Linked DNA regions of Homo sapiens. The protein of the gene in region 1 purifies or fractionates together with the protein of each later gene. This does not show direct contact. Each region holds a gene or a part of one and is shown in the gene's direction. Other genes may lie near its edges.

Region 1 (3,500 bases):
ATAAAAATAAAGATTACTAAATTGGGCTGAGAGCCTGGAGCACAGGCAGAAAAGGTCAGACTCCTCTTTTAGCACAGTTCTGGGCCTCTGGGAGGTACCCAATGTATCTGTACCAAAGCGAGTGGTCATCTGCCTTGCCTCCTGCCTCCCAGTCTGTTGGCCCCTGTCTGGTTGCTTCAGACACCAACATCCCACAGAGGTTTCTCTTGTGTCCTAAGACCCCTGGGAAGGAGGTCCCTCACCCTGTGCAAAGATTATTTCTGGGGTTCATCCCCCACTTATCCTGCTGCCATCCAGCCTCATTTTGTTCTCAGGAGAGATGAGGAACAGTCGGCGGACTACTCTTCTGTAAAATGAAAGATCTTTCCCCCTTGTGCTATCTTCAGGCCTTTGGTCTACTATAGACACTGTCTTTAGCCTAAGGCTCGAGAGCCTGGGCTGACCCCTAGCTGAACAGCCCTCTTGCCCACGGCAGGGTAGGGGTAGAGGGCATGGTTGACAGCAGGTATGTGATTTTGCCTTCTTCTCTGAGAGTCTGGCCTCTGCTGCCTTCCGTAGGTGGTCATGCCCAGTGAGCTTGAGAGAATGTTCCTCTACCTGAGGACATTCTAAAGCCCCTTCCCCTATACACACACACACTCCTGCATGAACCCCTTATCTAGGCTTATCCCTTCTCTCTGCCACTGGCATCTCAGAATTGTGGGAAGTATCACTTGAGGCTTCTCCCCACAGAGAGGGAAAACTGAGGCAGGAAACGAAAGACTCCCTTTCCCTGACAGAGGAGGAAACCCAGACATTGTAACCTCTGGGCTCTTGTCTCAAAGTCCAGCGTCCCTTACTCATTTGTGCCTCTCCCTCATGGTCTTGAGGCTGAACTCTGTGACCGTCAAATGCACCCTCATTGCCCAAGACCTTTCCTATGGGCAGGACTCAGAGACTCTCCTTGCTCATGTTACCCCCTCCCCACATCCCCGGGGTCCTGCTCCGTAGCTAGGTTGCCTGGCACTAGCATAGCCTTCTTCTAGGGCTGATGTCCCCTGGGCCTGGGAAAGGACTAGGGAGATGTAGGCCAAGTGGTAGGTGTGGCCCAGCCTCACCTGCACCCAGGGAGACAGCTTTGTGTTCTTGGTCTGTGTCTTGTTTGCTGCCCACACCTGGCTAGTTGCCCCAGCAGGTGTGGAAGGAAGAAAAGTAGGGGGTGGGGAGAGCAAAGGGGAGGTAACTTCTAGGAGCTGGCAGCTTTGTGTCCTCCTCTTCACCCTGGAAGGGTAAGGGCTCACCATTTGGGAGCCTTCAGAGCCTTGTTGGAGTAGGGAAAGTGGAATCTTAGGGGGCAGATGGCTGGATCCCCACATTCAGGACTGGTGCTGTGCCAACCAGCATCTCTTGACTGTTGCGGCTGGCTGGACTCCTGACAGGCATCTTAAAGGGATGATGTCCAGGCTGCTTTGCAGGCTGCTATGAACAAGAGGGCTGGGTCTCCTGGATCCAGAATCATCTCTAATACATCATCTTCAGCACACCTCCCTTCCCTCGGCTCAGAGGACATGTTAGAGGGGAGAAAAGGGAGGAAAGAGAGAAGTGAAGGCTCTATTCAAAGCTGCAGTATTAATAGGCTTGGGGGAGGAGGGGCCCAGATCTTTGCACCTATGGATTGGGCCAGCTTTCCTGTAGCCTCAGAGGCACTGGGGCCCTTCTCAGGGGATAGGAGGGGCCATAGGGACCCAGCTATCCCCTTGGAGATGGAGAAACTGGGGGCAATAGAGGCAACACTGTAAGGTGAGGAGGGTGCCTCCATGGCATCCTTCATGCCGGAGCCTGGGAGTCACAGCCTCTTTCCCAACCCAGGGTTCAGCCGACTCCTACACCAGCCGCCCATCTCTGGACTCAGACGTCTCCCTGGAGGAGGACCGGGAGAGTGCCCGGCGTGAAGTAGAGAGCCAGGCTCAGCAGCAGCTCGAAAGGGCCAAGGTATACTTTCTGGGCATGGGGCAAGACAGGAGGCCAAGCTAGGTGGAAACCTGCACTCGGTCCTAAGTCCCAAGGGGTCCTTGGGCAGGATGTCCTTGAGTGTGAGAGGGTGTGTGTGATGGGCAGAGGCCACGGCCTTCTGCTGTTGGGGCACTGAAGCTGGAAGGGGTGCTTCGAGCCTTCTCTCACTTGCACTAATGGGCAAATTCTCCAGCACAAACCTGTGGCATTTGCGGTGAGGACCAATGTCAGCTACTGTGGCGTACTGGATGAGGAGTGCCCAGTCCAGGGCTCTGGAGTCAACTTTGAGGCCAAAGATTTTCTGCACATTAAAGAGGTGATCGACCCCCCTACTTCCAGAAGCCTCTAACTTCATTTTCTTGCTCTTGCTCCAGATCCTAATGCTTCTGACTTGAATCCTCAGTCTAATTCCCCAAGCTAATCAGCTCTTCTCCTTAACACACACCTGTCCACCCCTCATATCTAAGATCTCATCCCCAGGGTCTCCATCCTTCTGAGACCTGGCTTGGGCATCAGTCTCCATGTCTGTCAAGTGAGCAGTTAGATTAGCTGCCTCCGAGGTCCCCTGTGACAGCTGCAATGCCTCACTCAGAAATCCTGGGTGGCCCGAACTTGGCTGTCCTTTCCCCTGGCCCCTTCTGCCCACCGCCCCTTGCATTGCATTCCTCAGACCAGCTCAGTGACTGCCTCGCTGGCTCCTTCACATTGAAGAGCCAGGACTGGGGCGGGGCGCTTCTCTCACCACCCCTTCCTGCTCCACCTGCCCCCAGAAGTACAGCAATGACTGGTGGATCGGGCGGCTAGTGAAAGAGGGCGGGGACATCGCCTTCATCCCCAGCCCCCAGCGCCTGGAGAGCATCCGGCTCAAACAGGAGCAGAAGGCCAGGTGAGAGTTGGGCCATGAGTCAGTAAACACACCCCAAACACTTGCACTGTACCCACAGGACACGTCACCATGCATGCCATACACATGCATATCCCCCTGAAATACACATACACGTATGCCCAGCTCTACACACTCAACACTAAACAAATCTACAAACACACACACATATTGCATGTACACCTGTCTCACTAGATAAAGCATATGGAATTGTGTACAATTATTAAATAATGCATAGAACATACATACACAGAGACACATTCTTCTCTCTCTCTCTTTCACCTCCCTTTCTTCTCAGGAGATCTGGGAACCCTTCCAGCCTGAGTGACATTGGCAACCGACGCTCCCCTCCGCCATCTCTAGGTAGCCTCCCCCCAACCCACCCATTTTGGGTAGGTGGGTAGCTAAGACACAGGGAAAGAGGGGATCCTGCCCAAGTGAACTGTGTGGGAAGGGTTTGTGGAGGGATTGGAAGGGGTGGGGAGAAGCCAGTATCTCCCCTGGGGACGGGGATACCATGCCCCCAGGGACCTTTCCCCCTTCACCAACTTTAATCTTGTATTTCCTTTTCCAAAAAGCCAAGCAGAAGCAAAAGCAGGTGAGTCAAGGAAGGGACCTGGGCTGG
Region 2 (3,500 bases), on another chromosome or scaffold:
AAACCCCGTCTCTACTAAAAATACAAAAACTAGCTGGGCATGGTGGCTTTTTTGCACGCCTATAGTCCCAGCTACTCGGGAGGCTGAGGCACGAGAATCACTTGAACCCAGGAAGTGGAGGTTGCAGTGAGCTAAGATCGTGCCACTGCACTCCAGCCTGGACAACGGAGTGAGACTCTGGGGAAAAAAAAAATTAAACTTCCTACTTTTTTTCTTTTTGTAGAGACAGAGTTTCACTCTGTCGCCCAAGCTGGAGTGCAGTGGCACAATCATACCTCACTGCAGCCTCTTGGGCTTATGTGATCTTACCCCCTCAGCCTCTGGAGTAGCTGGAACTACAGGCTAAATTTCCTACTTTGTAAACATCAGTAGTGGCCAGATACTTCTGAGTCTTAAAAGCATAATAGGCCGGGCGCGGTGGCTCACGCCTGTAATCCCAGCACTTTGGGAGGCCGAGGTGGGTGGATCACAAGGTCAGGAGTTCAAGACCAGCCTGGCCCAAATGGTGAAACCCTGTCTCTACTAAATATACAAAAATTAGCTGGGTGTGGTGGCGGGCACCTGTAATCCCAGCTACTCAGGAGGCTGAGGCAGGAGAATCGCTTGAACCTGGGAGGTGGAGGTTGTGGTGAGCCAATATCATGCCACTGCACTCCAGCCTGGGTGACAGAGTAAGACTCCGTCTCAAAAAAAAAAAAAGCATAATAATTTATTACATCCCAAATATATAAAAATTTGAGTGCCTTTGCAGTTGGGATGGTTCCTAAAATTGCGTATAGAATTAAGGCACAGAATTGTGTGTAAGGTCCTGAATCTGGCTAAAATACAGTGGATGTATGTATTGGAATTATGAGGCATAAGTAGCCAGTATCTATAGTTAGAATCTACAAGGCCTCCTTTTTGCACCTGTAGACTAGAATATAACTGTTATTGGTGCCTTTGAGTGTTATCTCTCAGTGGCTAGAGGTGCTGTTTCAAGCACAATTTAGACTAGGGTTGAACCACTCATTGTTCAAATCATTGGTGGGCTCCAATGTAAAATATCACTACATCAGTCCACAAGCAACATTAAGGAAATCTAAAGGAAATGGAATTTGACTTTTTAGAGTATAATGATGTTCTAGGGCATAATGAGGAAAATTTTTAAAAAATAGATTATAATGATACATATTGGTATCATTAAGACAACAGATTTGAGCAAATACAATTAAGGTGTCTTATTTTTTGCATCAAGTAATTATTGCTGTGGTCTTTCTACTCCACAAAATAATTTTTTCTTTTTGCAGTTGAAAATTAACTGCATTATTAACTAATTAATAAAATAAATCAAGTGGTATAAGGGATTAGTTTACCCTCAAGCCGATGACTCCATGGCTACTGATATTAGTTAGTTTAGGATTTTTAAAAAGCATATCAGACCCCCAGTTTCAGGAATTGAGTATAAATATTGCTTCTTGTCACCCTGGGACAGTAATGCCTTATAGTGGCACTAGTCACCTTAAGTAGATTACACATGGTTGAGGTGAATAAAGCTGCATGGGAATTTGCTTTCGTGATATATTTCATTTGCAAACTTCTACATAATCAAGTTTTATGTTTAAAACCATCGGTTCTATATATCTAGCTTTAGGAAGTTGCCCTTACAGGTGGGACCTTTTGTGTTAATCTGTTTTCTCCCCAGTCATCTTATTTGGCTATGTTAAAAAAAAAAAAAAAAAAAAAGCGAGAGAGAGAGATGGTGTCTCACTGTGTTGCCCAGGCTGGTCTCGAACTCCTGGCCTCAAGTGACTTTCCCACCTCAGCTTCCCAAAGTGCTGGAATCACAGGCATGAGCCACAGTGCCTGGTCTTAGCTGTGTTTTTAATTATGCCATGCATCAACATAACACCGGGCCATCTTCCTATCCCTTCCTATCCCATATGTTTAATGAAAACATATTTTATGTGCTAAATTAGGTTAATTTACCAGAGATTTAGCTTAGTGTTTTTAAACTATAGAACAATACCCCTATAGAACAATGTACAGCTGCACCCAAGGTTAAAAAGAGGTAGCAGGGAAAACAAACTTAAACTCTTTGTATATGGTGAAACCCATCCCTCTCCTGCCCTCTAATGGTATGTTTACATTATTTCGTTATTATACAATGTAGTGGTATAAACAGTATTATTAAACTGAAGGCATAAGTTAAAGGAAGTATGTTACTTTGAGCTGATGTAGGCTCTTCCACTTTTATCTGTATTTTACTTATTTGGGGACTTTGTATTGCTAGGGCTTCAGAATACTAACTTTGACACAGCTCCCAGAGAGGTTTGCAAACTTTTGGTTTCCCTCTCAAATCCATGGTAGTAGTTTCAAATGAGTTTGTGGATAATGGATGTTTAGTCCTTATCATTTGCTGTGTTTTGACAGTTTTTAATTTGCAGTATTCACTCACGAACTGTTTTATTTTAGGAATAATGCAAAACCAACCTTCGTCCGGTGATGAGAATAGCCGTATGATAAGAGAATTTGCTCATCGTGCTTTAAATGATTAACTGTTTTACCTTATTTAGTATTTCATAGACTTTGCATGATATGGTACACTCCTAATTATGCATTCTTTGGTTTCCAAATCTTAATCTAAGATACTTTGTTAACTGACTGGTAGCCTAAGAAAGAGACTTTTCTTCCTGTTTTTCTCTCTCCCCATTTTTTGGGGTAAGTTTTGCAAAGATCAGTGCTGCTTCTCATGACTCTAAAGTAAAGCTCTTTTGGATAGCACAGCCTAACTTTACAGCTAGACAGAATGGCCATTAAGAATATTTCCAAAATCCAAGTTTATCAAAATTATTTTGTGGGAAATCATCAATCTATTTTATTAATGTTATGTGTTTAATTTTGGACTTATTTTGGGAAAAACTGTTCAAATTGGGTCCTTTTAAGCTTATTTTAAGCAGCCTAGAAGGAAGAAGCTACTTAGCTAATGAAAGCTGAGACACTTTATTAAAAGCAGGATCTTAAGAGCATTGTTTTTCCTTAAAAACTTTATACTCTCAGATAATCTGCAACAACAAAAATTAAGAAATCCCTGACTTTTGTAGAATTCCCACTGTCAAATTCTCACTGACTTATGAGTGTGAGAGAAGTTATCTTTTGTTTGAATTCTGATAGAACAGTTTAACTCCTTTCTAAGGATATAAAAAATTCATTGGAAAGTGTGTATATTTCAAAGACTCTCAATTATCTGGACTGAAGGCACTGTTCTCACTATGGCCAGATGAATGGGAGTATTCTGTACATGAATCATGCTGTATTTTAAATCAGGACATCACTTAAGTATTAATGTTGTGTGTACAGATTTTTGTTTTGGGATTTTTTTTGCCTAAATAAATGTTATAAATTTTATGTAAAGTGTGTCTTGTCTACTTTTATTCTAGACATTTGGCTTTAAAAGTTAATATTAATGCAAACTTCAAATTCCTTAGTGATCCACTTGTAATGATTGCTTTCTGAAAAAGGCT
Region 3 (3,500 bases), on another chromosome or scaffold:
TTTCATTGTGATCATAATTTTTCCCTGAAGTTTTAATTTATTGACTTTTTGGGGTCAATTATGTTAGAATAAATTGTCCATATTTGATTTTTTTATTGCTTTGGGGGCCCATACCAGATTTTGCCAATTATAGCTTCTGCCTTTGTGAATTTTCTTCTGTGACTATTCCCACCAAGTTTAATTTTTCTAATTCAAATTTTGTGTATTTAAAGTTTATCAAGATTTTTTTCTTCCATCAATTTCAAGAGCACATTACTGTGTTCAATTTTTGCCTTTAATAGTTTTATTTTGGGTTGATTATTTCTACTTTTTTTTTTTTTTTTTGAGATGGAGTTTCGCTTTTGTTGCTCAGGCTGGAATGCAATGGCACGATCTCAGGTCACTGCAACCTCCGCCTCCCGAGTTCAAGCGATTCTCCTGCCTCAGCCTCCCAAGTAGCTGGGATTACAGGCGTGTGCTGCCATGCCCAGCTAATTTTGTATTTTTAGTAGAGACGGGGTTTCACCATGTTGGTCAGGCTGGTCTTGAGCTCCTGACCTCAAATGATCCACCCACCTCCGCCTCTCAAAGTGCTGGGATTACAGGTGTGAGCCACTTTGGCTGGCCTTACTTTCATTTTTCCTGGTTAGTTTTTATGGTGATTCTCAGATCACAGAAATGTGAGCCTTAGTTGCAGGTTTTTGTCCACATTAATTTTTATTGATTTTTTATTATTTTTAGCTGTCAGTTTGATATTGTACTAATAATATTCATTATAGACAGGATAAAAACTGATAAAAATTTATTAGTAATTTCTTGAGCATAGCACTTTGGTAGGGCAAAAGCATGGTATCAGATGTACTCCAGGGCAGATGTCTTATTTGCTAGCCTTCCTGGTCAGTGTGTCTTCACTTTCTCTTGGTTTGTAGGCAGCATTACAGAAACAACAGGAAGTAGTAGTGGCTGGGTCTTCCTTGCCTACATCATCAAAAGTGAATGCAACTGTACCAAGTAATATGATGTCAGTTAATGGACAGGCCAAAACACACACTGACAGCTCCGAAAAAGAACTGGAACCAGAAGCTGCAGAAGAAGCCCTGGAGAATGGACCAAAAGGTAGGTTTTGCATATGTGTTTGTCCAGATGTCATAATTCCAAATCTGTGAAAGGCAAAAGTCATGAAGTCAGGTTATAATTAGCTTTTGAGAACAATTACATATTTGTGAGAGTTGAACATTTTTTTACTCTTTTTAGTCTGAATCTAATGCTCTGGTGACTCATAGACCAGTGTAGAAGAGCAAATCAGATGTCTTTGGACACTTTTAAGACAAAAGTTATGTTTTGTCATATATATATATATAAATTATCTATTGCTGCATAACAAATTACAGGCTGGGCGCAGTGGCTCATACCTGTAATCCCAGCACTCTGGGAGGCTGAGGCAGGAAGATCACTTGAGCCCAAGAGTTTGAGGCTGCAGTGAACTATGATTCCGCCTGCCTGGGTGACAAAGCAAGACTGTCTCTCAAAAAAAAAACAAACAAAAATTAATTACACCTAAATTTAGTAGCTTGAAATAACAATAAACATTTATTACTATCTTGTACAGCTTCAGTGGGTCAGGGTTTCAGGAGCAGTTTAGCTGAATGGCTCTGACTTAGGCTCCCTCATGAGATTGCAGTCAAGATGTTGATGCCAGGACTAGAAGATCTGCTTCCAAAATGGTTCCCTCACATGGCTGGCTTTTGGCTGGAAGCTCAATTCCTGGCCCCATGAAGCCTCTCCATAGGGCTTCTTGAGGGTCCTCAAAACAGTTACTGGCTTCCCCTAGCAGAAGTGGCAGTGTCTTTTATGCCTTGACTTTGGAACTCCCACCATATTCTGTTGGTCACACATACCAATCCTTATATATTGTGGGTGGTGACCTCACAAGTGCATGAAGACCCAGAGGTGAGAATCTCTGGGGACCATCTTGGAGGCTGGCTACCATAGAAATAGATATATTTTTGAGACTAATGTATCATGTTGCCTAGAAAATAACTGCATTTTCAAAGCTCTACTAGCTTTCCATGGGCAGCTCATTTGTTCATTCAGCAATTAGTTGAAGGTTTCCTGAGTGCTAGGAGTACAGTGGTGAGGCAAAATAACACACAGAAAATGTAGATTGTAGCTGTGATAAGTACGGTGATGGAGAGAGAGGTACATTATCTTTGAGAGAATGTAAAACAGGGAAGTGTGACCTAGTCAGAGAGGCCACCAGAGGCTTCCCAGAGGAAGGGACAATTGACCTGAGATATCTGAAGCAAGAGGAGTTAACTAAGTAAGGAGGAAGAGGAGAGCATTTCAGTGACAGTGGTCAGGGATGGTGGTATGGTTCATAAGAAATTTGGTTTCAGAGATCTTCCTTGTCTGTTTAGAACAAGTAATAATTGCTTCAGAAAAGGCTTTGAAATCCCTTGGTTTACTGCCCCCTTCCCTTTTTTTTTCTTATCAAGGGATTATACTAGCATCTTCAAATGAGAGAAAATATTTCAAAGGCTCTGTGACTAACTTTGAAAAACTTATTGCATAGTCAAGTGCACATAGGTACTGCTCAGTAACAAGACTTTACCCCTTTTTCTCAGTCCCTAGTGGTTCTAATCCTGTCCGAGTTTTTGTTTCTTTGAGCTCCTTTAGAATAGCCCCTAGAACTTTGGGATAGTTGGAGGTGAAGAATTTTTCAACAGACAGGCTGAAGTCAAAGTCCAGCTTTCTTTGTTCACATCCACAAGAGTAATTTATTCCTAAAGCCAGAATCTCTCTTCCTTGCTAGAATATTTCCCTCACTCCAGCTGGGGCCTTCCCAAGGTCATTCTTGAATCCCCATAGAGGGAGTGTTGAAAAAAATTCGTTTCTAAAATTGTGGGCTGCCATTGTTACTTGAAGAAGTACGATGACCTCTGAGTGCCTGCAACATTGTTAAACATAGTAATCTGGAGAGACTCCCATGGGGAGGCTTTTTTATTCCTCCAAGTCCTTGATCTAAGCTAGACCATATTGTACTTGGTGCCTGAGTACAACTGATCAGGTAGTGCTATGAAAATGTGGCTACCTGCAGGGTGAAGGCTCTTTTTCTTTAGCTTTTTAATACCTATTGCCTTTAGAATCTCTTCCAGTAATAGCAGCTCCATCCATGTGGACACGACCTCAGATCAAAGACTTCAAAGAGAAGATTCAGCAGGATGCAGATTCCGTGATTACAGTGGGCCGAGGAGAAGTGGTCACTGTTCGAGTACCCACCCATGAAGAAGGATCATATCTCTTTTGGGAATTTGCCACAGACAATTATGACATTGGGTTTGGGGTGTATTTTGAATGGACAGACTCTCCAAACACTGCTGTCAGCGTGCATGTCAGTGAGTCCAGCGATGACGACGAGGAGGAAGAAGGTAGAACCCTTGGTCCATATTCAGTAGCTGCTGGGTTGTGTGTTGGCAGAAATGGTACATAGTTCAGGTGTCACCCAGCCTTATGCTTCCTGA
Region 4 (3,500 bases), on another chromosome or scaffold:
GTATCTGCGATGGAGGATGGTGATGGGCTGTGAAGAGTGTTTTGACCCTGCTCTGGGGCCTCATAACCTTGGCTTATTTATTTCTGAAATGACATCATCTATCGATGACTCCTGCTGAGCCCGGTCGTAATGGCCTTTTCCAGTCAATGTTTTGACTTTTCAGTCTTACTAATGGACCAGCCAGGCTGCCAACATTTCTAAAGAGGCCAGTTTACTTTTCCCTTAAAGCCAGAACACCAGATAAATCAATTATTGGGCTGCTAGGAGCCATTATCAGTTTAAAACCACAGGCCTGTTTCTATGGAAAAGCATGAACCAGATAGCACAATTCCGGGCCATTTCCTCTCTTTTGTTTTGTTTTGTAAAATCTTCCTTTGGCTAATCATGATAGAACCTAATTCTCTTTGCTCTTAATGAGAGAATGAGCTCATTGGAGTCAACTTAGGACACGGTCTGGGAGGTTTTCTTTCGTGTTAGGTGTTGCTGGGTTTTTGTCTGATCTGAAAAACTAAACAAACTCAAGCATGCCTTTTGTTTCTCCTTCTCTTATGTCCTTTTGGTTTTCTTTCAGAGAAAAAAATGATTTGTGAAAGGGTTGGACATTACCATCTGTGAGGAGGAAAGAGGGAGGGAGAGGGAGACAAGGGCTTGCGTCCGTCCACGCATGTCCATCCCTGTCTCAGTTCATGTTCTCAGGGGCCCCAGCCTCAGGCCCCACTCACTCTGGGGCTTCAAGGGTGGTGACCCCAGGGCCGTTTCTAGCGATGATTCTGGAGGGTGATGAGTTGTGACCACTGCGTTGTTGCTCTCCATGCCCAAAGGAATGAAGGAAAGCAGAACTGCCTCTGGGCATCCTTCAGCCTCCTTCATAGACTCATCGCTGCTGCCCATCGCTTTGCTGTTGGTGCCTTGGTGCCACTCCTACCCCTATTCTCTTTCCACCGCACACTCTCACAGTCTCATTCACTCCCACGACTCCAGTCACCTCCCAACTCCCTAATTCTTGCATCAAGCTGGACTGTGCTCCTCATCTATAGACATCTCTGCCTCCTGATTCCTTTCTCTTCACCACCCCATTCATTTGCCCACCAAGTCCTGTCAATGCTACCTTCCTTAATTTCTCTTACATCCATTTCTATCGCCACATCCAGTACCCCAGTAAGGACTTCCTCTCTCCCCTAAGCTGCTCTCAGAGCCTCTTAAAGGTATTTCTGCCTCAAGTCATTCCTTCTTCCATGCTGCTCTTAAAAGATCTTCACCTGCGTCAATTGTCTCCCTTCAGGGACTCCCCATTTCCTAAGGGATAAAGACCAGATTCATTAGCCTCTAAGACCGGGCCTCAAGCTACTTCTCCAAAATCATCTCTAGGCACTCCTCCAAATTCTCTTTACCTTCTGGCCATGGCAAAAGCATGCTGTGCCTTCATGCCTCCCTGCCTTTCCCCTGCTGTTCTTTCGGCCTTCAGTGCTGTTCTCCCTCTTCTCAGTCTGTGAACTTGTAATCACCCTTAAAAGCAAAGTTCTTCATTGATTTACCTGTACCCCCACAGCCCCCTGTGCCAACTCAGAGCACCAGCCAGAGTGTGTTCTAAATGGAACCACCCAATGATGTATCTCTGTCTCTGGCTAGACTAAAAGCTCCCTGAGGACGAGGTTTCTGACTCATTTATTTCTGCTTCCCCATGTGCAGCTCAGAGCTTAATGTGTGACATAGTACAGGCACTTCAGGTTTTAATAAATGGCTGACCACCGAATGAATGAATGAATGCATGAAATAAATGAATGAAGGCTCTGTGATAACCAGGACAGTCACACAACACCAACCAGCATTTACAGCATGTTCTCCTACCCGACCAAATCATCAGCTCTATGAGGGCAGAGACCACACCTATTCTGCTCCCCACTGCCAGCTCTCCAGCTCCTATCAGCCCCATCATGATACGTAGCTAGTGTGAATCCAAGAGCTCATTTGAAATTCACAGTAACCCCATGAGGGAGGAACAGCAAGTATTGTTACCTACCTTTTGTAATGGGACAGTGAACCCTAGTAGGAATTGTCCCAGGTCATCCAATTCCAGAAAACTGAAGTGCTCTCCAGGGTTTGACAAACTTGAGAAATGAGTCTTCTTGTTTTATATCCGTGCTTCTCTAACTTTAATGTGCATTGAAATTACTTGGGATCTTTTCAGAAATGCAGATTCTGGTTCAGTAGGTATGAGATGGGGCTTGAGAGTCTGAGTTTCTAAAAAGCTCCTTGCTTCTAATAAGCTCTAATAAGTTGATTAGAAAATAAACTTAATAATTCCTAATAAGCTCTAATAAACATCTAGTCAGGTGGTGTTGACTAGTATCTACAAACCACCACATTTTGAACACCAAGGTGAGTGCTAGTTACCACAAAGCTTCCTCCTGGCCATTGCATTAAGATAGTGGATTTTTAAATCTACAAATGAATTCATTTGTGCCTTGGATCAAAATCAAGGGCTCTTTCTGGTCAGCAAACTTCTTGCAAGTTTGGATCTATGAGCACAAGATGGGTGCCTGGGCAGTGCTGGGATGGGAACCTGAGACACCTGAGACCCTGAGACATCAAAACCACTCAGAAGTGTGCAAAGTGAAGGTAAGAGAGAGGGAGACGTGAGGACAGACTTCCTCCATGCAAACCAAGAGAGATTTAAAAATTCAGAATGGATAGCAACATTGCACGCATTTGCTTATTATGGTTTTACATTGTATTCCACTTACAGCATTAAAAAGGCTTGAGATGGCTTAAAAAATAAACTACATGACCAATGCAACTAGTAAGAACAGAAATTCTAGAAAGACAGGCAGAAACCCTGAAGATTAAGATCACGAAACTCCTGGAGAATCTGATTAGAGCTTATGAATTCTTGCTCCACAAAAATGAATATATTCATATACACAACAATTTGCATATCATTTCAGTGGGTGTGTGATTCCCCTGAAGCCTATTCAAAAGTCCGGGTTAAGAGCACCCGATACAGAGAATAAAGAGAGAAAATTATGCCAGTGCCCTGGCTGAAGATGACAACTGTATTTGGACACTCAAATTGGCTCTGAGATGACTCATGGCAGCCAAGGGGAAAGGGGGGGACAAGATGAATGGGAGGACTCTTGGTGTCTGATAGTAGAAGGAAGAACATCAATCAGTCTTTCAGGAGAGGGAACTATTTTCTTAACCCCAATCCTCAGTATATTGTCAAGACAGGCCACTAGACAGAGGGCATAGTAGTTAAGGCGGACTCCGGATCAGTCTGCACAAGGCCAGGGAACCTAGGAGCAATGAAGGGCAGACTCAAATCCTTCATTAGTCCTTTGGGGGGCCTTAAATAGCAATTGACACATAATGAAACACAATCTATCTTCCTGATTCACACACACACACACACACACACACACACACACACACACACACACACAGACTCTGGAGACCACCTTGCTGGATTCAAATCCAAGGTCTACTAGTTACTGGCTCTGTAA

Evidence for each region. The genes of interacting proteins can lie anywhere in the genome.
Region 2: the proteins of CACNB3 (region 1) and ZYG11B purify together in Homo sapiens (affinity purification with mass spectrometry; one large-scale study listed by BioGRID and IntAct). This does not show direct contact.
Region 3: the proteins of CACNB3 (region 1) and ACBD3 purify together in Homo sapiens (co-immunoprecipitation; one large-scale study listed by IntAct). This does not show direct contact.
Region 4: the proteins of CACNB3 (region 1) and TMOD1 purify together in Homo sapiens (affinity purification with mass spectrometry; one large-scale study listed by BioGRID and IntAct). This does not show direct contact.

Annotation. Positions count from the first base shown.
Region 1 is NC_000012.12:48,821,496-48,824,995, forward strand, and holds part of CACNB3 (voltage-dependent L-type calcium channel subunit beta-3), read left to right. Parts: intron 1-1,848; coding exon 1,849-1,971; intron 1,972-2,185; coding exon 2,186-2,308; intron 2,309-2,762; coding exon 2,763-2,878; intron 2,879-3,173; coding exon 3,174-3,238; intron 3,239-3,453; coding exon 3,454-3,473; intron 3,474-3,500. UniProt on the Homo sapiens protein: Regulatory subunit of the voltage-gated calcium channel that gives rise to L-type calcium currents. Increases CACNA1B peak calcium current and shifts the voltage dependencies of channel activation and inactivation.
Region 2 is NC_000001.11:52,823,953-52,827,452, forward strand, and holds the end of ZYG11B (protein zyg-11 homolog B), read left to right. Parts: 3' UTR 1-3,384; downstream 3,385-3,500. UniProt on the Homo sapiens protein: Serves as substrate adapter subunit in the E3 ubiquitin ligase complex ZYG11B-CUL2-Elongin BC. Acts to target substrates bearing N-terminal degrons for proteasomal degradation with the first four residues of substrates being the key recognition elements.
Region 3 is NC_000001.11:226,152,242-226,155,741, reverse strand, and holds part of ACBD3 (Golgi resident protein GCP60), read left to right. Parts: intron 1-764; exon of another isoform or gene 765-908; coding exon 909-1,095; exon of another isoform or gene 1,096-1,139; intron 1,140-3,122; coding exon 3,123-3,407; intron 3,408-3,500. UniProt on the Homo sapiens protein: Involved in the maintenance of Golgi structure by interacting with giantin, affecting protein transport between the endoplasmic reticulum and Golgi. Involved in hormone-induced steroid biosynthesis in testicular Leydig cells.
Region 4 is NC_000009.12:97,504,666-97,508,165, forward strand, and holds part of TMOD1 (tropomodulin-1), read left to right. Parts: intron 1-3,500. UniProt on the Homo sapiens protein: Blocks the elongation and depolymerization of the actin filaments at the pointed end. The Tmod/TM complex contributes to the formation of the short actin protofilament, which in turn defines the geometry of the membrane skeleton.